5 separate regions of the Homo sapiens genome follow, and all the other regions are linked to region 5. The links come from fine-mapping of genetic effects on gene expression. A gene starts in region 5. Each other region holds a variant in brackets. All regions are shown on one strand. Distances are from middle to middle.

Region 1 (5,108 bases), 95 kb before region 5:
ACAGTGATGAGTGGTAGTGAAAGTAGTCCGTGGTAAAAGGCACAGGCTGTGGAGACAGACTGCCTCGCCTTCATTCCCAGCTTCATCTGCTGGTGATCTTAGACACATGACTTACCCTGTCTTGAGCCTCAGTTTCCCCATCTGCGAAATGAGGGCAAATGAAAAGAGATAATGCACCCAAAGCCCTTAACCTTTATTCTTGTAGAGTTTAACCGTCTTTAAAATTCAAAGGATACATTTCAGTTTAAGAGATTTGATTAGCGATAACAATATACAAGTGGAAAACCTATGGCTAATTGAATACCACAGTTAAAAACTGGCAGGATGTTTCAGCACAAACTGATGAGAGCAAGATGAGCACATGCAGAGCTGCAGCTGCGACCTTCTGCCTGGACTTGAAATCAGGGTCTTCAACGAAGTCTGAGGCTCTGATTCTTGTACTGGGTGAGATCTGGGAGGTGAGGGAAGAAGAGTTATTTTATCACCAGTAACGCTTCCTCTCCACATCCCAGTAATTGAAGGCAAATGCAACAGCTCAGAGTGATGATCCCCAAACTCTTCATGGGAGTGACCAAGGTGGGAAGTGCACCCACCACTCTGTCTCAGATTGTGAGTTGCTAAGAGTTGGCCATCAGCAGCTGCTCCCTAGGAACCCTGCTGACTGGCAGCCACACCCAGCAACAGCCAGCTCACCTTCCCGAGGCACTCACGTGCCCTTGGTGCTGCTGAATTGTGAGCACTTGGTTCAAGGCCACAAAGATGGTGTTTGGATGCTTCTTTGCTTAGTAAAACCCAGGGGCAGGACACCAGGAAGAATGGGAAGGGGCTGGGTTTCTTTGTTTAACTGTGTTTATGACTTTTCACTTAATACTATGTGTACATAAGCACTCCTTCAGTGTCATTCTGATGAAAAATTGACCTGGAAATTTTGGAGAGAAGAGAGGAGTGTTTTATTAATTGACATGCAGAGGTGTTCAGGCAAGAGAGCGGAGACAAGGCCATCACACAAGGATTGGGAGTATCCAGAACTGACCATATGTGTGGAGCTTTCCTTTCACTGCCTGTCTCCCCACATACTCACAGCACACCTGCTGACACCCACTCACACGTCCTCTGACACCCACCAACACACCCACTACACGCTCATACACACATGCATTTTGAGTCCAGTGAAATCAGGGTAAAGTGTGCATCAGTCTGTGTTCCCGGAGATGGACTTACTGTGGAAAATGTGGATGAATAGTGGGATATTTATACATATAAATCTTCATGCCAGTTGGCCCTTAGTACAGGTTGCTTGCTAGAATCCCTGCCCAACCATCTGCTGTGCCTGGGGAAGTTACCCCAAAGCTGAGCACTCACAAACATAGCACTAACTGCCCCTAGAGAGTCTTATGTGGAGGGTTATCTCAGATACAATTCTCAGGCCCCAAGAAAGTGGGTTTGACTGCATTGCCAAGCCTGCTACTAATCTGAGAAGAGTTTCTTGGCTTCCAAAGACTTGATCATCTCTCGTTCTTCTTTTTTTTTTCCACAGTGTATTTGTTGAATGCTTATTGTGTACTCTGCTAAACTCTATGGGTTGCTGGCTGCGTAAAGATAGGGTGGTGATATCATTTAAAAGAGGTGGGCTTTGGTAGTTCTGCAGCTGACAGAGACCCAGGAAAGGTACATCAAGTGGAGGTCCTAGCTGCCATTCTTTTCATTAGCAACTCACCTGTGCATGGTTTCCCCACCTGTAAGTTAAAGGGAATCTGTTAGTTAAGCATCTCAAAGACCCTTTCCAACTTGTTAATTTATTGAATTGTTTATTGTGTGATATTAACCCAAATACCTCACCTCTTATGTCTCAGTGTCCCTACCCATGATATGAGAATAGCAGTACCTCAACGTAGGGCCATTGTGGAGATGGCATGAGTTAATGGATGTAACACAATTAGAACAGTGCCTGGCACACATATGTGCCATGAGCTAGCTTCATCGTCATCATTACTAACATCATATAACATCATTATTAACATCATCCTTTCATCCAACATACACTGACTGTGAATAGTGCCAAGCACTGTTTGAGTAGCTGGAGATATTGCAGTGAACAAAACCCCACCTCTGCCCTTGCAGAGTATCCAGTCTAGGGGAGACAAACAGGCGAGGAAATATCTCAAATGACAGATGGCAATAAGTGCTGCAGGTGCTACAGAGAAAATGAAATGGGATCAGGGAGATAGAAAGTATTGAGATGGCAGACAGGGTGCTTATTTATTTATTTAAGAGGTGGGGTCTCACTGTGTTGCCCAGGCTGGTCTCAAACTCCCGGGCTCAAGTGATCCTCCTGTCTTAACCTCCTGAGTAGCTGTAATTGCAGGCATGAGCTGCTGCACCTGGCCAGGGTGCTATTTTACGTAGCATAGAATCTCATA[T/C]TTGTACAGAGACCTTAAGAGCTATGCATGTTGACATCTGATGAAGGAGTGTTTTGGGCAGAAGTGCAAAGTCCCTGGGGGAACTCATGAACTGTCCACAGAACAGGAAAGGGGCCACTGTGGCTGGAGCAGAGTGGTGAGGAGAGTAGCTGGGGGCAATGCCTCACATGTTGTGGAGGGAGCCAGGAGTTTGGGGGGCCACCACAGATCTCATGGGGACTTTTACTCTGAACAAAATAGGAAACTATTAGGAGGGTCTTGAGGAAACAGATTGATATGATGTGACTTTTGTTTTAAAAGGATCACTTTAGTTTCTATGTTGAGTCAAAATTGCAAGGGAACGAAAGCAGAAGCAAAGCAAACCAGGCAAGAGATGATGACCATGACTTTGACCAGGGTGATTACGGTGGATTCCTTCTAAAGTCATTTTATTCTTTCTCTCTAAATACAAATTATTTGCTTTAAGGACCCAAAAGGTATGCCCATCACCCTCTCTAGGGGCCTCAGTAGCAATTAACTTGATAAAACCCAAGGCACATAATTTCTTAGGTGGAAGCCATCTAGCAGTGTAATGGAACCAGATGCCCCCAAACCTTGACTGCTACAAGAAACCTGACCTGCCTTGAGTTACTATTTCCTGGCTGAATGATTCAAATCTCCAGGGTTATTGGCCCAGTGAATTTCATAAGCATTTCATCCTCTTGAAAAGATTAAATTAAGAAACAATGTTATGCAAATGAAAGGCTCTAGCTGTCAAGATTTCCAGACAGATCCATTGTTCTCATGGATTCTGTTGAGATCCCAATTCTTTCCCCTCATTGTCCTTAGTTCCTATCTTAAAAGGTCTGGAGAAATTAATCACGTTTAAGAGATAATTGTTTATAAAAAGTTGTCTTTCGTAGTTGCTAGACATAGTGTTTTATACGGCAGTTAGAGAAATTTTTCTCATTGTGCAGCTCACATATTCTGTAAACTTACTTAACATTTGGTTTGGTTGTTTGGTCAGTTCCTGAGAGAAATTAGTTTAAAAATCAAAAAACCCCATCTAAAAGTGGGCAAAGGATATGAACAGACACTTTTCAAAAGAAGACATTTATGTACCCAATAGACACATGAAAAATGCTCATCATCCCTGGTCATCAGAGAAATGCAAATCAAAACCGCAATGAGATACCATCTCACACCAGTTAGAATGGCGATCATTAAAAAGTCAGGAAACAGCAGGTGCTGGAGAGGATGTGGAGAAATAGGAACGCTTTTACACTGCTGGTGGGAGTGTAAACTAGTTCAACCATTGTGGAAGGCACTGTGGCAATTCCTCAAGGATCTAGAACTAGAAATACCATTTGACCCAGCCATCCCATTACTGGGATTGTAAATCCCAAAGGATTATAAATCATGCTACTAGAAAGACACATGCACATGTATGTTTATTGTGGCACTATTTACAATAGCAAAGACTTGGAACCAACCCAAATGTCCATCAATGATAGGCTGGATTAAGCAAATGTGGCACATATACACCGTGGACTACTATGCAGCCATAAAAAAGGATGAGTTCATGTCCTTTGTAGTGACATGGATGAAGATGAAAACCATCATTCTGAGCAAACTATCACAAGGACAGAAAACCAAACACTGCATGTTCTCACTCATAGGTGAAAACTGAACAATGAAAACACTTGGACACAGGGCAGGGAACATCACACACTGGGCCTGTCGTGGGATGGGGGGAGGGAGGAGGGATAACATTGAGAGAAATACCTAATGTAAATGAAGAGTTAATGGGTGCAGCACACCAACATGGCACATATTTACATATGTAACAAACCTGCACATTGTGCACATGTACCCTAGAACTTAAAGTATAATAATAATAAAAAACTCCATATATAATTATAAAAAAAAAGAAATAATTGTTACCTAATAAGGCTTTTTAAAGGTGTTGCTTAAAACAATTTAAAATGTTTAATACTTCTAGTGAAGGCTTTACTTTATGCATAGTAAAATTCAGGAGCTACAAACTAGATAAAGAAACAAAGCGAATTTTATAGATTATGCTTGTCCAACCCCTGGCTGAAGGGTTGCATGTGCCCAGGATGGCTTTGATTGTGGCCCAACATAAATTTGTAAACTTTCTTAAAACATGATGAGATTCCTTTTGCAATTTTTTTTATTTAAGCTCATCGGCTATCATTAGTGTTAGTGTATTTTATGTGTTGCCCAAAACAATTCTTCCAACGTGGCCCAGGGAAGCCAAAAGATTGGACACCCCTGCTATAGATAAATCTGGCCTCTCAACCATTCTGTCTTTAAGAGGGTTTTCAAGTGCCTGGTATAGAAGAAAGTATGGGTTGAAATTTTAAAGCTTTCCTAATTGCCAGCATGGTTCACTCCATTTGATTTTAGTATTAGGTCTCTTTAACTTAAGCAAGTTAAGTCCAAGTTTAAGCGACAGACTAAGCCTGGAGTCAAGTGTCATAGCCTGATGTACACACTGATGTAGGCACTCCTTTTATCTCAAGTTTTACATGAAGTGCTCCTGAGTTGGCTTAAAATCACTTGTGTGGCCGGATGTGGTGGCTCACGCCTGTAATCTCAGCACTTTGGGAGGGCAAGGCAGGTGGATCACTTGAGTCCAGGAGTTTGAGACCAGCCTGGCCAACATGGTGAAACCCCATCTCTACT
Region 2 (5,108 bases), 80 kb after region 5:
ACACTATGACATCAACCAGAACCAGACTTAAGTATAAATGTCTATCTTGTTTTGAAAGTCTGAAAAAGGTCTCGTTTTTCTTGGTTTCAACTGACTTGATAATTGATTCTCAGACATATAGAATGTACATCTAGGGGATATTTGATGCTGGTTAATCTAGAGGCTTTAAGTACTGGATTATGTATCCAGCCAATTAAATATGTAGTTCTGAACCAAGGATGCTTATCAAAAATCACCTGTGGATTATACCCACTAGAACGACTATAATTTTAAAAAGACAAATAATAAGTTTTAATGAGGATGTGGAAAACCTGGAACCCTCATACACTGCTGGTAGGAGTGTAAAATAGTGTCGCTACTGTGAAAAACAGTCTGACAATTCCTCAAATGGCTAAATACAGAGTTATTGCATAACTCAGCATCTGCATTCCTAGGAATATAACCAAGAAAAATGAAAGCATATATTCATACAAAAACTTATATGCAAATGTTCATAGGAGTATTATTCATAACAGCCAAAAAGCAGAAACAACCCAAATGTCTGTCAATTGATGAATGGAAAAATAAAATGTAGTATAATCATACAATGGAATAAAAGGAATTTGATTAAAAAGAAATTAAATGAAATACTGGTATATGTTACAACATGGATGAATCTTGAAAAAAGTGGAAGGAGACCATCACAAAAGACCACATATTATGATTCCATGTATGTGAAGTGTTCAGAATAGGCCTATCTTTAGAGAAGGAAAGTAGATTACTGGTTGCCAAAGGATGGGAATTTGGGGGGTAATAGTTAAAAGAAAACTTTCTTTTGTGGGTAATGAAAGTGTTCTAAGACTGTGGTGATAGATGTACAATTCTGAATATACTAAAAACCACTAAATTGTATATGTTTAAATAGAAGAATTATATCAGAATTTTGTCCCATAAAGCTAATTTTTTAAATCACTTGTGGAGCTTTGTGAAAATACAGCTGGTGAAACCCCAGCTTTGACTTCCTGAATTTGTTTTTACAAGTGATTGAATGTGTACTCTAATATAAGAACCATTGAATTACAGCTATTTTTAATCTTTCAAGAAGAGTCTCTGTGATAGTAATGAAGACCCTTACTTTCTCTGACATAAAATATGTTGCTGTTTTAGAGAACGTGGGATATAGTATATCTCATACTTAATTACTGTAAATTGCATGTAACTTTTTTTAAATCACCAGGTTGTTGCTTAGAATATGCTACCATGTTGGATAAAGAAGCCAAACCATACAAAGTTGATCCTTTTGTAATTATCATTAAGTTTCTGTTGGGGTAAGTTTTATTATCTGTGATAATGATTTTAATTGTGTTTTACATGTAACATTATATTTGGTTCCATAATGCAATATAAATTTTCATACAGATTTGGCAGTTGACTTGTTTCATTAAATGAGGTTTTTTTTTTCTCTTAGGCAAAGGTCTAATAAGTATATCAATGTCTACTTCAATAGTATCATTTCAAAAGTAATTATTCACTTTATGTATATCAGTCTAAACTTAGACTGCCTTTAATGTTTGTAAATAGGTGTATATGGTCCATGATCTGTGAGTATCCTAGATTCAAACGCAAATCATTACAGGGTATTGATGAAACAGTGCCTCTCTGATCACTTTTAAAAGTATATTTTAGACCTCTCTACCCTAGTTAACATTCCATTCTTAATTTAGTCACATTTTCAGATTTTTGGTTAAGCATCAATATGTAGATCTTTTTTTCCATCATTACAACTAACTTGGCTTTCTAAAAAAAAAAAAAAAAAGAACATATTACTTTCTACTAGTATCAATATAGATTAGTAAAGCTATACTGAAATGCAGATCTTCAAAGATCAGTAGGCTCACTTGGAAAATAAATGACTTGTTCCATACAAAGAATTAAAAATTTGTTTTTCAGTATAATTATAAATTAAGTATCATGGAACTTTAGAGACTCTCTTGAATAGTCAGACACCTCAAATATTAAGTCCTTAAATTTCAGTTGTTGGGTTTTTTGCTTTTATATTTTCTTTTCTCCACAGGTATAAATGGTTTAAAGAATTGTGGGATGTATTATTGTTACCAGAATTAGATGC[C/T]GTCATTTTAACTTGTCAGAGTATGTGTTTCCCCCTGATATCCTTGATTCTCTTTCTGTTTGGAACGTGTACTGCCTACTGGAGTGGCCTACTGTCTTCTGCATCTGTGAGACTTCTTTCTTCATTGTGGCTAGCTTTGAAAAGGTAAAGAATGAATGATTAACAGCTTTCTTATTGCTTTAAGAAGAAATATATATTCTGATAAGGAACCTGAAATTAATTATTTTTACTAAACTATTTTCTAAGGAAAAATATATAACTAGCGAAAGTATGGGTTAGTGTTCAAAGTTATGTCTGTGAAAGCTAATCATTTATTAAGAGTTAAATGTTACATTTGATTTTGACCTTAGCGCTCAAGAGTTAATAAGAAAAGTTTGACAAATTACGCAGATAGTTTTACATTTCGTGGTTGTGAATCTTTCCCAGGAGGGATTGTTTCTCCCATAATATTGCTTTTATATGCTGACTTCTATATTGAAACCAGGGGGCAAGAGACTGTAAACCAGATATTAGGATCAGATTAGATGAGATATATAAAAGCTCCAAAAACATTGCCTAGAGTTTTATTATGGGCCCAATGACACAGTTTGAATCTGAAGTTACTGGTAGGCTTTCCTGGTAAATCATCAATCTAGTGCCCATTGCCACTCCTCCTTACCAGACATGTCATGTGATTTCCTGTCACAGAGGGGATTATGGTGGGTGTGATGCTTCTTCCTCCACCCTTCTGAGATGCTTCAGATAGGGGTTCTGATAGTAACACCATCAAGGGTCTGAGTGGTCTCTAGGCTTTAAGAAATAGAACATAGTTTCTCCTCCTGTCAAGACTGGAGATGTATGGCACAGAGTGTATAATTAATGATTATCTTTGGTAACATTTTTTCACCTGTAGTACAAGTATCAGCTATAGTATTATCAAAATGGTAGAGGAGTTATCACAATACATTACAGAACTTAAAATCAAATATTTGGGACCACTTGCCTTTATTTAAAAAATACCTTGTTGTTTACCTTATGTATTTGCATATAAGCAAGAGAGACTGGGAGGGTACTATATTGTTTTCTTCTTATATGTGACTATATAAATATTTGTTAATATATATTTTAAACTTTATTCTTATAATTCCAGACCCTCTGAACTTCCTAAAGATATCAAGATGATATCACCAGACTTGCCCTTTTTGACAATTGTCTTGATCATAGTTAGTTGGACAACTTGTGGAGCACTAGCCATACTTCTTTCTTATCTTTACTATGTGTTTAAGGTATGTCAAATCAGTAAAGCCAAAATGATTGAGCTTTGTATTAGGCACATACATGTAGGATGTTCCGTAGGCATTGTTAACAAAAATTCTCATAAACACTGTAGTAACCCTCTGTTACATAACGGGTTTGAATGTAATTAGTTATTTAAATTACATACAATTAACTGGAAAAGGGAAATTATTGATCTAAGTTGGGGTTTTTTTGTTGTTAAAAAGGAAAGGGAAAGGAGAAGATATAATCTGTTTCTGCTTGCTTCTTAGTCTTTACAAGTGTTAAATTTTTTTTTTTTTTTAACATTTCACTAGGGCAGTTTATATTCACACCTCTTTTTGAACATGGGTAAGAGACGAAACAAAAAGTGATGTCAGTAGGATCAAGCTATTAATCATACTAAGATAATATAAAATGTTACAAATGTTGCTGAAGGATCAGAAGATGACAATAAAAATAATTAGGCTAATATTTTTACTGAAGAAGTGAAAAACGTGTCTGATAAAGCTGACAGCTTTGCAAAGAAAAAAAAAAAAATCCAGGAGGTAATACAAGTGTATTCTCTCCATGTTATTCTTAGGAACAGACAGTTGACATCAGAGTGGATAATTCTTTTTTTCCTTAAAAATGAAATTTTTAAAAGTGTAAATACATGCATATCATATATTATTTTCAGTTTTCCAAAGGAAATTTATATGCTTCTTAAAAAATTATTTACAGCTACTTTGATTTATAAATAATAATTTTAGTATTTTTTAAATTAGGTAATTCAAACCACTGACCCACTAAGCAAAGTTTTCTTAAATACTTAAGTAACCCTAATAAATTAAATTTAAAGATTTTTTTCAGTTCTTATAAACATTTCACCACTGTATATAATTGGGTTCTGGTTTTCAAAGACTTAAAATATGTGAAATGTGTTATATCCTTTTACTATATTGAATGTAATGAAATCTTTGACTTACAAGACACTTTAAGTTGCTATAACAAAGCATCATTCAAACATAGGCTTTTACAGGTTATAAAAGGTATAGCGGTATATCCTGGCCCCACCATACTCCAGAAGTTTGTATTGTTTTGTTTCTGTTTCCGTTTTTTTGTTCATTTGTTTGTTGCTTTTGTTTGTTTTTTAATCCATGATAGCCAGCATGTGTAGTTGTTGTTTTGTATAAGAATGTTTTTAAATGTTTAAATGACTTTTTGGTTTACATTTTAAACATTTCAGATTACAGTGCTTCTCATTTTTAATACCAAAAGGCTTATATGTTTTGTTTCAAAATAAAAGTAAAATTAAAGAGCAATTTATTTTTCTTAGGTTGTTCATCTGCAAGCCAGCTTAACAACTTTTAAGAATAGCCAGCCTGTGGTAAGTTTTATTTTCAAAACTCTACATAAATTTAAAATGAAAGAACATGGGGAAATATAAGAGTTTTTTTTTTTAAGGTTAGTATTTCATAGTGCTTAAAAGATACAGTATTATGAATTTAAGTAAAGTGAACCTAATGAATATTTTAAAAGACTTATAAGTTCATCTTTTGTCAGTACCCATGTCATTTTTTTACAAGTTTATTGTCTATTAAATTTTATTTTGAATAATTACTTAGATATATTCTTAGCAGTAGAACTAGCAAGTCAAAAGAATAAAGGTTTTATAACAATTTTAAAGTATTTTTAAGCAAAGTAATTTCAGGATTTTATGTCAGTTTGGTAATGGAAAGATGTACTTATTTAGTTGATAAGTAAT
Region 3 (5,108 bases), 250 kb after region 5:
TTACAGATGTGCCTGGAGTTGGGTTTTCTCATTCTGAACAGTCTGTAGTTCATTTGTGATACTGGCATGGGCTGCATCCAGCAATAAGTTTTGTTCTTGAAATGTCTGCGTCATCATTTTCTGCTCTACCTGAGTGTTAAAAGCAATATTAGAAGTTGAAGCTCCACAAAGTCTTTTGATAGGGTGTCATTTGGAGTAACTGATCAAAAACACTGAACTAACTTAAAAAAACAAGTTTCATTTACATAAATAAAACCTCTTTTTAAAACAATTTATTTCAATGCCCAGTTTCTCTTTGTCCTCCTCTGAGTTGACTAGTTCTATCATTTTATAGCTCTACTAGCCAATAGTCAAGATGCATTATTTACCCAGCCTGCTGAAAAATTATAAAACTCCTAATACCAACAAATTTTTAAATATAGAAAATTATATTACAAGTAATTTTGGTATTTTAAAATTTCAATATGGTACTTTATTTTTAAAAGTAAAACAATATAAATGTATATAAAGTGAAAAGATCCTTTCCTCTCTATCTGCACTTCCCCTCCAAATAATCCCACATTCTAAGGATTATCATGTTTAACAGTTTGCTGTGAATTCTTTTAAGACTATCTTAAATTGCACTCAGATAATGTTACAGCAGAAGCACTATAACTGTTTTACATAGTTTATTTTCTTTGGCTCACCATTTTGGAATTATCAAAACATGACATTTTTATGTACCATATACCCCTACACATAATCCATAAAGTTTTTGCAAATACAGTACATATCAACAATTAGTTTTATAAATACTTTTTAAAAAACTTCTATTTTAACAATATTTGATTGCAAAGCAAGTCTTCACACTGGTAAAATGGGATCCCAATTGTTATATTCCAAAATTTTGAAATATTTGTAATAAATATTTCACTATATATTCAGTCCACTGAATTATAAGTCCATGAAAGTAGGAATTTTGTCTTGTTCACCACTATAATCCTATCTAGATATAGCATTATACTTGCACAGAGTTAAAAACTAAGTATTTATTGAGTATATGTTATGTGCAAAGCATGCTTAGCACTATGAGAAATAAAGATATATAAGGTAATGTCCTTGCCTCTAGAGAGCTCACAGTGTAATCCAGGAAATGAACCAGCACATAAATTACTACTAGAGAATGCAGAATAGGGATGCAGCATAATGATTATATACATTGACTCTGGAGTCACCCTAGGTTAAAACACAACTCTACCTCTTACTAGTTAGGTGAATTTGGGCAAGTGAACTTCTCTAACCCTCATTTTCTTATCTGTAAAATGAGGATAATAAATATCCTTTTACATAATGGCTGCTACAATTAAAGGAGGTAATATGTGTAAAATCCTTAGCACAATGCTTAGTATATATAGTAAGTATGCTTACAAAAAGAGAAAGTGATCTATTACTATGGTGGTCTGTTTAGTGTCCCAGGAATAGAAGTTGAAAGGGAAAACTTATCCCTTCCTGTTGGGATGATCAAGCTGCCTGATGAAAGTGACTCTTAAAGAATAAACAGAATTTCAGATATTGAAGATGAAGTAAAAAGCATTCTCAGCAGAGAAAATGGCATAAGCAAAAGGAGAAATCGGCAAGGTGTTTGAGGAAAAGGTTAAGTACTTTAAGGTTAGTCATACGTGTTCTCCATGATTCTATAAACAATGGGACAAATAATTATTTTTCCTCAAGTGATGATATTTGAGAAGAAATCATGAAAAGCCCTGAGTGTAAGGCCAAATCACCCCTCTGATGAAAATTGAAAAGCACTAATAGAATTAAGATAATTCAGTAGATTTTTTGAAATTTATTGTTAAAATATTTTATTTCTCCAGTTGGCCATAAACATTTCCTGATCTATCAACCAGGCTGGCTTTCTGGTTGGCTTTCATGTTAAACGAATACCTGCAGAATGGCCTGATGGTCAGCAATGATTCTGGCTTTTTCCATAGTAACAGTCTGAAGCATGCAGCTCAACTCTGAACACTTTTTAGTCAATTGGTCATTCAAAACCTAAGAAAACACACACAGCAAGTCATTGGTCTCTCCAATAAAGAATTATTTTTACTTATGTATTATTATTTTTAATGA[T/C]TGCATAGTATCTCACTGTATATATGAAACTAATCTATTTAACCTATCCTCAATTCACATGTCATTAGTTTAAAAAATACTTCCAAATATTAAAAGTCTACACCATAAATAATTCTAAATTAAGAGATTTGTTGATTTGGTAGAGCAACTGAAGCATATGGCATTTTACTGATCTTCTGTTCTTCACAAATTTGAACACTGGTTCATTAGAGCAAGACATCTGCAAAATGGAATTTACAATGTCAGTACCTAGCCAATATTATAGAAATCCATGAGCATTCAGAATTATTTAGCTGGTAACACAAAATACCTAAGCTCCTTCACCACCAGCTGACAATATTCATAAAAGCAAAATATAGATGATTTTACCATCACGAGATTAATCTTTCAAAATAAAACAAAAATTGTTTGAGCTACACAGATATATCATATATGTAGGTAGTTAATAATTCTCTTTTCATAATTTGAAATTTGTATTATTGAGAGAAACATTTATCTCAATTATCAGTTATTTTTGCAAGGTAGATTTGGCAAAGATCTTATGTTTTAAACAAGTTCTTCAAGAACAAGCAACTTTGAAAGAGCACTAGGAAGAAAACACACAAAAAATAAAATGGAGTAAAAGAAAAGATAAATAAAAGATTATCTGGCAAACATCACAAGTGGTATGGGCAGGCAGTACAGTAGTTAGAAACAAATTCAGGGGCTTAAAGTCACACCAGATGCAGATGTACAAGCTATTCATCAAAGAATACCTGGGGACGAAACAGAGAACCCTTGCTCCTTGAAAAGAAATAGCTACTTTTCTTTGGAGCCAGGTTACCTGAGTTCAAATTCCAACTCTGCCACCTATTATCTATGTTCCTGAACTTCTCTGTACATCAGCTTCCTTATCTTTAAAATGTGAATAAGTTTCCATTTCATAGGGCTATTGTGAGGATTACAATTTGTTACTAATATAAGGTGCCTGGAATTGTGCCTGGAATGTAGAAGGGGCTCAGTAAAAATGTTACCTACTATTAGTATAGAAAGAGTAATAGTAGTTGATGTTATTATATTTAAAAACACATTCATTTTATACTTCATTATTTTTATTATACACAGAGCCCAGCAACACTATGATCCTAATATTGAGACAATCAAATTGTACCAAGAGAAAAGTTATTTTAAATGATAAACACTTCTTTTGGCTCTGTGATAAGTAACTCCAATTTGACTGCATATCTGGTGACTTTTTGTTGCAGATGCACATATATATAAAACATCAGCTAAATTTGGGAATCACCATCCCAGAAATGATTACATCTAACTTCAAAATCCAGCAAGCATTTGTTAGGTTCCTACTGTATAATTATTTACTATAGAAGATACAAAGAAAGTATAAGACATAGCCCTTGCCATGGAATTATTCAGAAGTTCACTTTGGAGGGGGAAATACATATATTTAATGAGCAAATTAGAAAGCAAGCAAAGGCAAAGTGTAAACTAGTGCATAATTATAGTGGTACATCTTGTATACTTATATATCATAGGAATTTGGAGAGCGAAATGAGAAACGTAGTTAATTTGATAATGTTTCAAAGATGAAATAAATCTTATGGAAATGAAAAGTTGGGTGATGGAGATGGTATGAATTTATATAATCAAGACTAATTTTGTTTCTTGGTTATTTAATTGAACAAAATTAAATAACATCTAAAAACTAACAAAATCATGAGCATTTACTTGTGCTTTTTCTGATGCTTCATGAAGAGACATTATTTCGGACCTCAAATATGCATTTTCTTCATGTTCCTTGTTGAAAGATATCTGCAGGTTCTATAAGAAAAAAAATTACTCTCTTTTTCACATATAAGAGATACTATGTGCACCCCTATAAAAATAACTGTTTTGTATTTCGGCCAGTACAAGTTCAAGTTCCAATGACATACACTGGAACTTTATAAATGTCTTATAAAGAATGTATAAAAATCTTGGTATCTTCAACTCCTAAACTTCTGTTTATTTCAAAACTATTTATCAAAACTGTTTATTTAAAACAATAATGAGATACCACTACACACCTATTACAATGGCCAAAATCTAGAACACTGACAACACCAACTGGTGTCAAGGATGTGGAGCAACAGGGACTCTCATTCACTGCTGGTGGGAATGTAAAATGGTACAGCTACTTTGGAAGACAGTTTGGTGATTTCTTACAAAACTAAACATATTCTTACCATATGATCCAGTAATCATGCTCCTTGGGATTTACCCAAAGGAGCTGAATACCTATGCCCAGACAAAAAACCTGCACACAGATACTTATAGCAGCTTTAATCATAATTGCCAAAGGTTGGAGCAATCAAGATGTCCATGAGTAAGTTAATGGATAACTTGTGGTATATCCAGACAAAGGAATATTATTCAGCACTAAAAATAAATGAGCTTTCAGCCAGGCACGATGGCTCATCCCTGTAATCCCAGCACTTTGGGAGGCTGAGGCAGGCAGATCACCTGAGGTCAGGAGTTTGAGACCAGCTGGCTAACATGCTGAAACCCCATCTCTACTAAAAAATACAAAAATTAGCCAGGCGTGGTGGAGGGCACTTGTAATCCCAACTACTCGGGAGGCTGAGACAGGAGAATCGCTTGAACCCAGGAGGTGGAGGTTGCAGTGAGCTGATAGTGCCAATGCACTCCAGCCTGAGTGACAGAGTGAGACTCCGTCTCAAAAAAAAAAAAAAAAAAAAGAGAGAGAAAAGAAAGAAAAATGTGCTATCAAGCCATGAAAAGACATGGAGGAAACATAAATACTTATTACTAAGTGAAAGAAGCCAGTCTGAAAGGCTATAGACTATATGATTCCAACTATATGGCATTCTGGAAAAGGCAAATCTATGGAGACAGTAAAAAGATCAATGATTGCCAGGGATTAGAAGGGGAGGGAGGGATGAATAGGCAAAGCACAGAAGATTTTTAGAGCAATGAAACTACTCTGAATGATACTATAAAAC
Region 4 (5,108 bases), 25 kb before region 5:
AGCCCCCAAATCCTTTCTTTTCCTAACAAAAAGCAGCCTGAAAAATCAAGCTGCAAGCATAGATAAGCAAGCTAAAAGCTTGCATAGGTAAATACCAGCAGCTGTGCCAATAGAAGAAAAAGGCTACCTGGGGGCCAAGCATGTTCAATATGGAGGCTCCATCTTCCCCTTTCTTTGTCAACGATATGTACAGTAAGGAACAGACAACATGGCGCCAGCCATGTGGAGAGTCCATCTGCATAATAAAAGATTAGGGTGGTATGGCCAGCTTTCTCATGTGCTATGCAAACGTCACACCTAGTCCAACCAATCTCTCTCGGGCCCTGTGTAAATCAGACACCACATCCTCAAGCTCCTCTGTGAAACCTCATGCATTTCACCACGAAACTGGAAGATCCAGTTAGGGGTCTGCAAGAGAGAGATCTAGTCTCTTTTCTCTTTCTTTTGCCTATTAAAATTCTGCTCTTAAACTCACTTCTTGTGTGTTCACGTCCTCAATTCCCTTGGCATGAGATAATGAACCTCAGGTATTTACCCCAGAAAATGACACTTCTTCAGTATTTAATAATAATATATAAGTATTATTATAAAATGTATTCCGAGAATACAAGAGTGGTTCCTTAGTAGAGCATCAATTAATACAATTAATCATATTAATAAAGCTAAGGAAAAAAATCAGATTGCTGCTGCCATAAATGCCAAAAAGGTATTTGGCAAACAAAATTCAACATGCATTTATGTTAAAAATACTCAATTAATAGAAATTGATGGCTATTTCAGCCAAAGCCAGCTTCCCACCTAATGGAAAATTTTTTTTTTTTTTTTTTTTTTTCTGAGATGGAGTCTTGCTCTGTTGCCCAGGCTGGGAACGATCTTGGCTCACTGCAACCTCTGCCTCCCGGGTTCAAGTGATTCTCCTGTCTCAGCCTCCTGAGTAGCTGGGATTACAGGCACGCACCATCACGCCCAGCTAATTTTTGTGTTTTTAGTAGAGATGGGGTTTTGCCACGTTGGCCAGGCTAATCTCAAACTCCTGACCTCAGGTGATCCACCTGCCTTGGCCTCCCAAAGTGCTGGCATTACAGGCATGAGCCACTGCACCTGGCTGGAAAAACATTATTAAAAGTAGTAAGAAGACAAAGATGACCACCATGTCCATTACTATTAAGCCTTGGAAACAGGGATTAGCCAATACAATTATATGAGAAAGTTTTTTTTTTTTTTTTTTTTTTTGAGACAAGCTCTTGCTTTGTCACCCAAGCTGGAGAGCAGTGGTGCAATCATGGCTCACTGCCCTGGCTCAGGTGATCCTCCCACGTCAGCCTCCCACGTAGCTGGGACATCAGTTGTACCATCAAGCCTGACTATTTTTGTTGTTGTTGTTGTTGTAGATGAGGTTTTGCCATGTTGCCCTGGCTGGGAGAAAGCATTTAATTACACAAGAATCAGAAGGAAAATAAAAAACTATCTCTTTCCAGATGATGTGATTACATATCTAGGAAACAAAAAATAGGCCTGGCTCAGTGGCCCACATTTCTTGTAATCCTAGCACTTTGGGAGATGAGGTGGGATCACTTGAGCCCAGGAGTTCAAGACCAGCCAGATCAATATAGGGAGACCCTGTTTCTACAAAAAAATTTAAAAATTAGCTTGCCTGTTGTCTGAGCTACTCAGGAGGCTGAGGTGGGAGGATTACTTGAGCTCTGGAGGTTGAGGCTGCAGTGAGCAGTGATTGCATCACAGCACTCCAGCCTGGGTGATAGAGCAAGACCTTGTCTCAAAAGAGAGAAAAAAGAAAACAAAAGTAAATGGAGAAATTAATATAAATAATAAGAGAATTTGGTAAACAGGTAGCATACAAAATTAATATAAATAAGTCAATAGTCTTATATAAATACATAATAAGCAGACAGAAGAAATAATGCTTGATACCTATAAGCACTTCTGAGAGTTTTTGTAACATATTCTACAGCTGAGTAGGACTAGGTGGTTAGATATAGAAGTGGCAAAAACAGCTTTGACTTTTCCTTTTGTAACCTCCTGTATGAATGATTAACAATAAGTTGATATGCTTAAAACAAAACTAATTAGTAATAGAAGAAAGAATAATAATTTATTTTAGTTTTCCAGAGGATTGTGATGGATGGGCTAAGATGTAAGGCATCCACATGAATCCTGGAAGGTCAGAAGCCTCCAGACCTTCACCTCTTCCCACACTCCACCCCATATTCCTTATGCCAGAAAAGCCCCGCCTAGTTGCAGTTCCCTGGCACAGCAGGTTGTTTCATTGCTCTGTGCCTATGCTTTTTGTAGGAACTACAGAAGGAGGTCTCCTTTCAAGGGTCACACTCACTGAGGCCTCTTGAGTGCCCTCCTCTCTCCAACCCTCATCCCCAGCTCCGGGTAGAATTTACTACTTCCTTCTTTGTATCACTCCATGAACCTTGCTCATTTCCACATCTGCTTCATCCCTCAAGACTGTCTGACTCCTCTCCAAGCATACTCCTTGCCCTAATGTATCTGGTCAGTAAATTGAGTGAGTGAGAAAAGAAAATATTTGGCTTAATTACTTGATGGGTGGCTGTCTCAATTTCTGGGATAAGAATCTTTCAAATATCCCTACTCTGGTTTTCCCAGTCAAAATATTTGTCACATATCATGATGGTGAATTAGTTTTGAAACATACTATAAAAGAAATATTCATACTTCTTTGAAGTAAAAAATGACTGTGAAAAATATTTCCTTTTCAAGTTGTATCATTTGCAACCAAGAGGAGAGAAGGTACCATTGTATGTAATTAAACAGATTTTCAACTTTTTAATAGATTGTCTCTATAAGTTAAAGATACTTATGTGCACAATAGTCATTGCCCCCTCTAATCTA[G/A]TAGTTCAGAACAAAGCTAGAGCTGTAGGACCCATGAGTGCTGTGTCCTCCAATGCCTAGGGGTACTGTTAGTGAACTACCTTAAGAAACCCGAAACAGAAATTTGCGATGCAATCTGAATTCCAAATGACTTGCAAGCAGATTATACTCTAAAAATTCATTTGTAAATTGAGGACCTTGAACTCTTCAAATCAAGAGGAAAAGGCAAATGAAATAAAACATATCTCTGATGACATATAATTAGAAAAATAACTTCTGAAAGTAGTTGTCAGGATAGAAGAGAGACTTTTCACTGTTCACACTTTTTACCTTTCGAAATTTGTACCATGTGATAATTATTCCTCCAAAAAAGTTTATTTTATTTAAAAAATGTTAAAAGTGTTAAATTATAGATTTAGATCGTTTCTCTAGTGTGAAAGTGAACATATATTGTTTCTTTAACTTCTGGTCTCTTTCTCCTGCTGTTGAACTTGAACCTGCTTACTGTAAAAATTACTCTACATGCTGGCTTCCCCTTTCTGTAAAAATAAGTACATCCTGGTGGGAGTAACTTGTTTTGTCTTAATCATAAAATGAGTATCTTTCACAGTAATATTTATTCCCTACTTCTGGGGTTTTCTTCTGTGTGAAGGGACATCAGTTAGTATAACTCTCCTGACCCTCTGCATCCACACACTCTACCCTAGGGAAGGGAGTGACCTACCTGCTGAATTTGGGAGCCCCATGCTTCCTCCTCTCCTCCTCTTGGGACCAGTTACCCACAGGAAGCACCCTTGTCTCTAAGCCAGTGTTATAGGACCAGACCTCACACAGATCGCCAGCAGTGGTCCACACCTGAGTGGGAATGTCAGTCTAATTCTGGGATGTAGTATTTTTCCCAGACATAAGTGGCATTTTCCAATAGCTGCTTTACAAGTAATCAAAATGATATGTTGATCTCCACCTGTCTTACCCCAAGCCTATCTCTTCAAACCTCAAGGAAAAATGGAGGTAGTATGTATTTGTCCCAGTGGATATCACCTGCTATGCCTTTCTTCAGTGGTGCTCTGAAAAAAAAAACAGGAAAAAAAATATTCAAGTAAGATGCATTGAAAGCATATTGGTAATTCAGAAAAATATATTAAAATGAGGAAAATCTAATTTCAGACTGAATTTCCTGTGCTTTATTCCTTCATTTCTCCCTATTTTTGTCTCCTCCTACTATTTCCTGGCTTGCGTTACATTCTTATTTCCTTAATCAGTTGTTCACTCACTACTCCTTCATTCATCCATTTAACAAACATTTAGTTAACTCCTATGTGCCAAATGAGAACATAGCATTCCAAGACGACTAAAACAGTCTGGTGGAAGAGATAGATAAATATATTGCTAGTTAAAATGCAATCAGATAAGTACAGTGGCAAAGAAGTGCACAAAGAGTTATGGAGGCATTGAAATGCGACATCTAATCTAGCCAGGGGGAGCCAGAGAAGGTTTCTGGAAGATGTAGAACCTGAGCAGCATCTTAAAAGATGAGTGGGAGGCCGGGCATGGTGGCTCATGCCTGTAATCCCAGCACTTTTGGAGGCCAAGGTGGGCAGATCATCTGGGGTCAGGAGTTCGAGACCAGCCTGGCCAACATGGTGAAACCCCAACTGTACTAAAAATACAAAAATTAGCCGGGCATGGTGACATGCACCTGTAATTCCAGCTACTGGGGAGGCTGAGGCAGGAGAATTGCTTGAACCTGGGAGGCAGAGGTTGCAGTGAGGCAAGATTGTGCCATTTCACTCCAGCCTGGGAGACAAGAGCGAAACTCTGTCTCAAAAAAAAAAAAAAAAAAAAAAAAAGAGTGGGAAAAATAAGTTCTGATAGTTCTGATGAATAATTAAACATTTTTTCATTGCCACTTTTATCTCCAAGGGGGTGAATTTGCACAAATGATTTTTAAAATTTTTTTATTGTAAATTGACAATTTATAATTGTATGAACTTATGAGGTCCAAAGTGATGTTATGATTTATTAATACAATGTGAAATAATTAAATCAAGGTAGTTAACATATCCATCACCTCAAATATTTAACTTTTTTTTTGTGGTGAGACATTTGAAATTTACTCTCTTAGCAATTTTGAGATGGAAAGCAAGCAACCTGTGCGTTGTGAGTATGCTTTTCAAATGTGATGCCTGGCTCTGTCATGCTGGTTGTCGCAGATCCTTTGGTGCACCCTTGGCCTACCTCTGGTT
Region 5 (5,108 bases):
GGGGTTTCACCATGCTGGCTAGGATGGTCTCAAACTCCTGACCTCGTGATCCGCCCACCTTGGCCTCCCCAAGTGCAGGGATTATAAGCATGAGCTACTGTGCCCGGCCCAGAATCTGCTTTTTAACAAAATCTCCAAGTGATTCACATGCACATTAACTTTAAGAAGCACTGAGATAGAGATGAGGGAGTATGGATTCACCCTGGGTTTATTTGTCATAATACTACTCCTACCATGCTAGGAGAAATAAAGAGGAGACGTTCTGCCTTTGATGTTCTTTAGCACCCAGACTCAATGTATTCCCCCCTTTTTATTTATAACTTAAAGCCTTCCCCAAATGATTTGTAATCCTCTGCACTCACTGGTAATTGCATCCCAAACCCCACATGCATTCTCTTTTATGGTCAACAATGTCAAAACCCTATAGTATATATTCCTCTTTATCACATTTATCTCTTAACATCTTGCGATCAAAATGGGTTCTTCTTGATAATCCAGTCATGTTGGTGTAATTCTACAAATTTAACACATTCTATACCTATTAATAGAATATAACAGACATGACATTCCCAAGTGAAATCACCACTTCATAAAGAATTTCAGGCTGGGTGCTGTGGTTCACACCTGTAATCCCAGCACTTTGGGAGGCCGAAACAGGTGGATCACTTGAGGACAGAAGTTTGAGACCAGCCTGGCCAACATAGCAAAATGCCTTCTCTACTAAAAATACAAAAAGGTAAGCCGGGCACAGTGGCTCATGCCTGTAGTCCCAGTACTTTGGGAGGATGAGGCGGGTGGATCAAGAGGTCAGGAGTTCGAGATCAGCTTGTCCAACATGGTGAAACCCCGTCTCTACTAAAAATAAAAAATTAGCCGGGCATGATGGTGTGTGCCTGTAATCCCAGCTACTCGGGAGGCTGAGGCAGGAGAATTGCTTGAACCAGGGAGGTGGAGGGTGCAGTGAGCCGAGATCGCGCCACTGCACTCCAGTCTGGGCAACAGAGCAAGACTCCGTCTCAAAAAAAAAAAAAAAAAAAAAAAAATTAGCCAGGTGTGGTGGTCACACCTATAATCCCAGCTACTTGGAGGCTGAGACACCAGGATCACTTGAATCCGGGAAGCGGAGGCTGCAGTGAGTCAATATCGCGCCACTGCACTCCAGCCTGGGCGACAGAGCAAGACTCCGTTTCAAAAAAAAAAAAAAAAAAATTAGCCAGGTGTGGTGGTCACACCTATAATCCCAGCTACTTGGAGGCCGAGGCACCAGGATCACTTGAACCCGGGAAGCGGAGGCTGCAGTGAGTCGATATCGCGCCACTGCACTCCAGCCTGGGCGACAGAGCAAGACTCAGTCTCAAAACAAACAAAAACGACACGTCTCATACAGGACTTACTTCAATGACATATTACTTAATTGCCCTCCTGATCAGTACCACCTACAGCTCCCCTGTTATCCTGGTCTTTCCAGACTTATCTCCCTACAAAAAAGGAGACTGCTTCCGCATTTTCCCATTTCTGTCTTTCTCCGTCAATACTCCACATTCCGTAGCTAGCTGTGTTTGTTTAGACTTGCAACTGTTTCTGTGCAGGGTAAAGACTATCTTGATTTTCAGGATCACTCCACTTCTTCTTCATAGTTTCGTAATCTGAACATCAGGGTGTTGTACAAGATAAACTATAAGCTTCCTTTTGGTTTTAAAATTCTTTGATTTTATGTATTGTAGCCAAACTTCCTCTGCACAGAAAATATACCAGAAAATCAGCCCAAGTTCAATGAAATTCATTTAGTGCCAAAGACCATTCTAAGAATCCTGTGGTTACTACACACACACGCACACACACACCGTCTACTGTTGAGTCAGCTTTAAAGAGTGATGTCTTTTTCCTAACATTCTAGTGTTTTGAAGCTGCTACAAGTGATTGATTTCGAGCTTTTTTTAAAAACTCCTCCTTTGTACAAAACAGAACCGAAATTCTTCAAAACGAATTAAGTCATTTGCGAGTTTGAATGGAAGCTGGACGAAATTGCCTCCTCCAGTTAACGTGGAACCCATTCCCCAAGAGATGGAGGTTCTGGAGAGCAAGGCGAGTCAGCGTCAAACTGATTACGCAGATACCTGTTGGGGACGTCAGTGCTAATAGATATTTTGGTAACATATTTTAAGGACTAACGATGCTTTTTGTGATTCAGGCTTTCATCTGATACCAAGAGCAGAATCTCGTCGGCTTGCGGGTGTTTTTTTTTTTTTTTTTTTTTTTTTTTTTAATGAGCCGGTGCTTTTAAGCGCTGTTACCTACTGGGCCCAAGTAGGCGGTAGAAGAGGGAAAATAAAGCCATTTGTTCCCTCTTCAAGCTAACTGCTCCAGAGAGCTGTGAGTGTGCTCTACTACCGTTGGGAAAACCGAAATTGCGGAGGCCTGAGTCTTTTCAAAATTGAACGGGAAGCGTTTTTAAACTGCCGCAGGGAGAGGCGTTTGCGAGGTGACAGCTGATGACCCCTGGGCTTTTAAGTCCTCCTCCCCTCTCTCGGTCCGCTCTCGGTCCTTAATCGCCTCTGGACTCTGGGCTCTAGTCCCCTCCCCAGATTCACCCATCTGACACCCGCCTCCTGCCCAATCCCCCGGCTCGTCTCCAGGGCTCCCGCGCTCCGCCCATCCCCCTCTGGATGCTTCCTCTCTCTCTCTTCTTTCCCTCCCGCCAGCCACTCCTCGCGTCTTTCTCTCCCCACTTCCCTTCTTTCCCCTCACCCTCCAGCCCAGCCCACCCTGCTTTCTCCCTCTTTCTCTTTCCCGTAGATCCGCGCTCGCGCTGCAACACCTACTCCTCCCTCGGCTCTGGGAGTCGCCAGGCCAGAGGCGCCGCGGACCTGGTGCGCGCAGGCGCACTGCGCGGCTGGCGAACGGGCAGGCCGGGCATCAGCGCAGGCGCGCGCGGCTGGGGCTCGGCTCCGGGGGTGGCGGTCGGACAGTGTCTAGCACGCTCAGTCCGGGCTTGGGGCCCCGCGGCGGAGAAGGAGGTAGAGGGGGCGGCGGCGGCGGCGGCGGTGGTGGCGGCACCATGTTTCTTCACTCAGTTAATCTCTGGAACCTGGCGTTTTATGTCTTCATGGTCTTTCTGGCAACCCTGGGGCTGTGGGATGTCTTCTTCGGCTTCGAGGAGAATAAGTGCAGTATGAGCTACATGTTTGAGTACCCGGAGTATCAGGTAAGGTTCTGCCCTCTCCTCAGCCGGGCGCTCCAAGACTCTGGCCCCTGGTGCCTTTTTCCTTCTGTGGGTTCGTCCTGCCTTGGCTCTCTGCGCCTCTCGGGCCCCCTGTCCCGTCCTCGCCTCTGTTTTCTCCGCCCGGGGAGACTCTGCATCCCCCTTCTGCCCCCCTCACCTCCCCTTTGTGTCCCTTCTTCACGGTGGGGTGTTTGTTAGACGATTTCCCGAGAGCATCCTCGTGGTCGTCCTCGTAGTTACTCCGCTGTCCCTCCGCCTCCTCCCCAGCCCCAAATCCTGGGCACAAGCTCTTCTGACTGGCCGGGCCCAGCCCCCCTCATGCCCAGAGAGGCAGCCTCAACCCTTCTCCCTAAACCGAAGCTCCATCCCTCTCGCGTTCTTGCCTTAACCCGTGCCCCAGGACCTTCCTTTGCTTCCCACGCGCCTAAATTCCCCTCGCGCCCGGTGATCTGCTCGTCAGATTTCGCATTTCTAGAAAGGGACCGAGCGTCTGCAGAGTGTATATTGGCTAGATAGTTCCCAAGGCTGTTTTTAGAGACTCCAGGGTTTTGCCTATGGGTAAACTGGCGAGTCATTGAATTGGAAACTAGATCCCCTCTTGGAAAGATGTTGCAGATCCTCTTATTTTGCAGGTTAAGGGGCCGTGCGTGTGTGGGCTTGCCTGTGTGTGTGCATACCTGTGTTTATGCATGTCTCTCAGCAGCCGAGCCTCTTAATAGTTGCATACAAAATCTATTTCATGGTGCTATTTTTGTTTTCTCGCTGGGTTCGGAGTTTAAGAGAGAGCCAACCCTTCTCTCTCCACCCCTACCGCTTCCATGCCATTTTGAATGTTTTCAATCAATGGCTTCGTTAGTTCGGCATAGTAGGATCTAGAATTTCATTCATGACTAGCTGTAAAAAGAGGCGCAGACAAATTACACAACTGTCCTAAGAGAATTTTTCCGAATGATTCTTTTATTTCTAAGTGCATCTCTTAATTATGGACTACCTATTGTAATAATTCCCTACCATAAAATGTATATGCACTATAACATATATTGATAAAATACATTTTTAGTATACTCTTAAAATCACAGCAGTTTTTTTTTTAGGGTGAAGGATGCAAGTCCTGATTGCTTCTTTGTACAAGTCATTATGGAGGAAGCCTGTTACTTGATTACGCTGCTATTATTTTGATCTTAAGACTACTTAAGGTTTAAATTGCTGAAGAGCATTCTTTCCCATGGGAAAAATTCTAGTAAATTTAGATTTCATTTGTGTTTAGATCCTTACCTTGGTTTTGCATTTATGATGATAAGAGAGTGGAAACATTTGGTAGGGATGCTATCGAAGGAGAAGATTTTGACATGTTACTGTCGTCTCTGTTCATTTCTAAGCAAACCTTTTTAGTTTAGTATTTTAAAAAACTGAAAATAGAGCTATTATAATTCCCTCCTTATTTTTGGTTTAATAATTAGGAAACTCCCAATAGATTGAAGTAGGTCACTTTAGTTTTGTACCGCATTGAAGAGTTTGGTTAAAATCATTTTGTGACAGTACAGTACTAATTCCCATTTATTTTTAGATTTCCTACAATTATTGAAGCTATTTTAATATTCACAGAAGTAGAAATTGTTCTCTTTAGCGTTGGGAACAAAGCATATGGATCTCACAGACGCATTTCCTGCCTCATAAATTGACTGGAAAAACAGAAAATTAGTGTAGCTAATGGTAAAGAGCTCTTTGGGTTTTTATTGTTGTTGAGTAGTCTAGGTTTAGTTATTTTGGTTTAAGTTGCTTTTTTGGGGTTTTACACTTCTATTAATAATTTGCTAATACAGTAATAATCACAGTGGCAGAAGTTTTTGATTTTTAGCAGGTTTTTATGATGTAAAAAGCTGTG

Which allele goes with the higher level. Alleles are on the strand shown, and positions count from the first base shown. SD is a standard deviation of normalised expression in the study named. Not every link is listed here.
With allele T in place of C in region 1, the expression in hypothalamus of the gene that starts at base 2,968 in region 5 is lower (moderate effect, 0.62 SD a copy in GTEx).
For the expression in subcutaneous fat of the gene that starts at base 2,968 in region 5, T is the low allele of the variant in region 3 and C is the other (moderate effect, 0.47 SD a copy in FUSION).

Evidence for each region. PIP is the estimated chance that this variant, and not a neighbour inherited with it, causes the effect. A credible set is the group of variants that fine-mapping cannot tell apart.
Region 1: its variant is the best candidate, but not a certain one, in a credible set for the expression of PGAP1 in hypothalamus (GTEx, PIP 0.82).
Region 2: its variant is the best candidate, but not a certain one, in a credible set for the expression of PGAP1 in whole blood (TOPMed, PIP 0.57).
Region 3: its variant is the best candidate, but not a certain one, in a credible set for the expression of PGAP1 in subcutaneous fat (FUSION, PIP 0.53).
Region 4: its variant is the best candidate, but not a certain one, in a credible set for the expression of PGAP1 in whole blood (TOPMed, PIP 0.55).

Annotation. Positions count from the first base shown.
Region 1 is chr2:197,019,996-197,025,103 of GRCh38, reverse strand. All of the region lies in intron 17 of ANKRD44 (ankyrin repeat domain 44), which reads left to right. Among named protein-coding and RNA genes, the nearest start is that of PGAP1, 96 kb to the right of the region's middle. The variant T/C (reference allele first, on the strand shown) is at 2,421.
Region 2 is chr2:196,844,146-196,849,253 of GRCh38, reverse strand. PGAP1 (post-GPI attachment to proteins inositol deacylase 1) reads left to right here. Exons shown (of 27, transcript NM_024989.4): 21 at 1,217-1,307; 22 at 2,054-2,251; 23 at 3,237-3,372; 24 at 4,680-4,730. Among named protein-coding and RNA genes, the nearest start is that of C2orf66, 37 kb to the right of the region's middle. The variant C/T (reference allele first, on the strand shown) is at 2,108.
Region 3 is chr2:196,671,164-196,676,271 of GRCh38, reverse strand. It overlaps CCDC150 (coiled-coil domain containing 150), which reads right to left. Exons shown (of 28, transcript NM_001080539.2): 9 at 3,835-3,927; 10 at 1,924-2,031; 11 at 5-129. Among named protein-coding and RNA genes, the nearest start is that of CCDC150, 34 kb to the right of the region's middle. The variant T/C (reference allele first, on the strand shown) is at 2,110.
Region 4 is chr2:196,949,336-196,954,443 of GRCh38, reverse strand. No RefSeq gene overlaps it. Among named protein-coding and RNA genes, the nearest start is that of PGAP1, 25 kb to the right of the region's middle. The variant G/A (reference allele first, on the strand shown) is at 2,884.
Region 5 is chr2:196,924,567-196,929,674 of GRCh38, reverse strand. PGAP1 (post-GPI attachment to proteins inositol deacylase 1) reads left to right here and starts at 2,968. Exons shown (of 27, transcript NM_024989.4): 1 at 2,968-3,205. The coding sequence starts at 3,059. RefSeq lists a silencer at 2,770-3,019.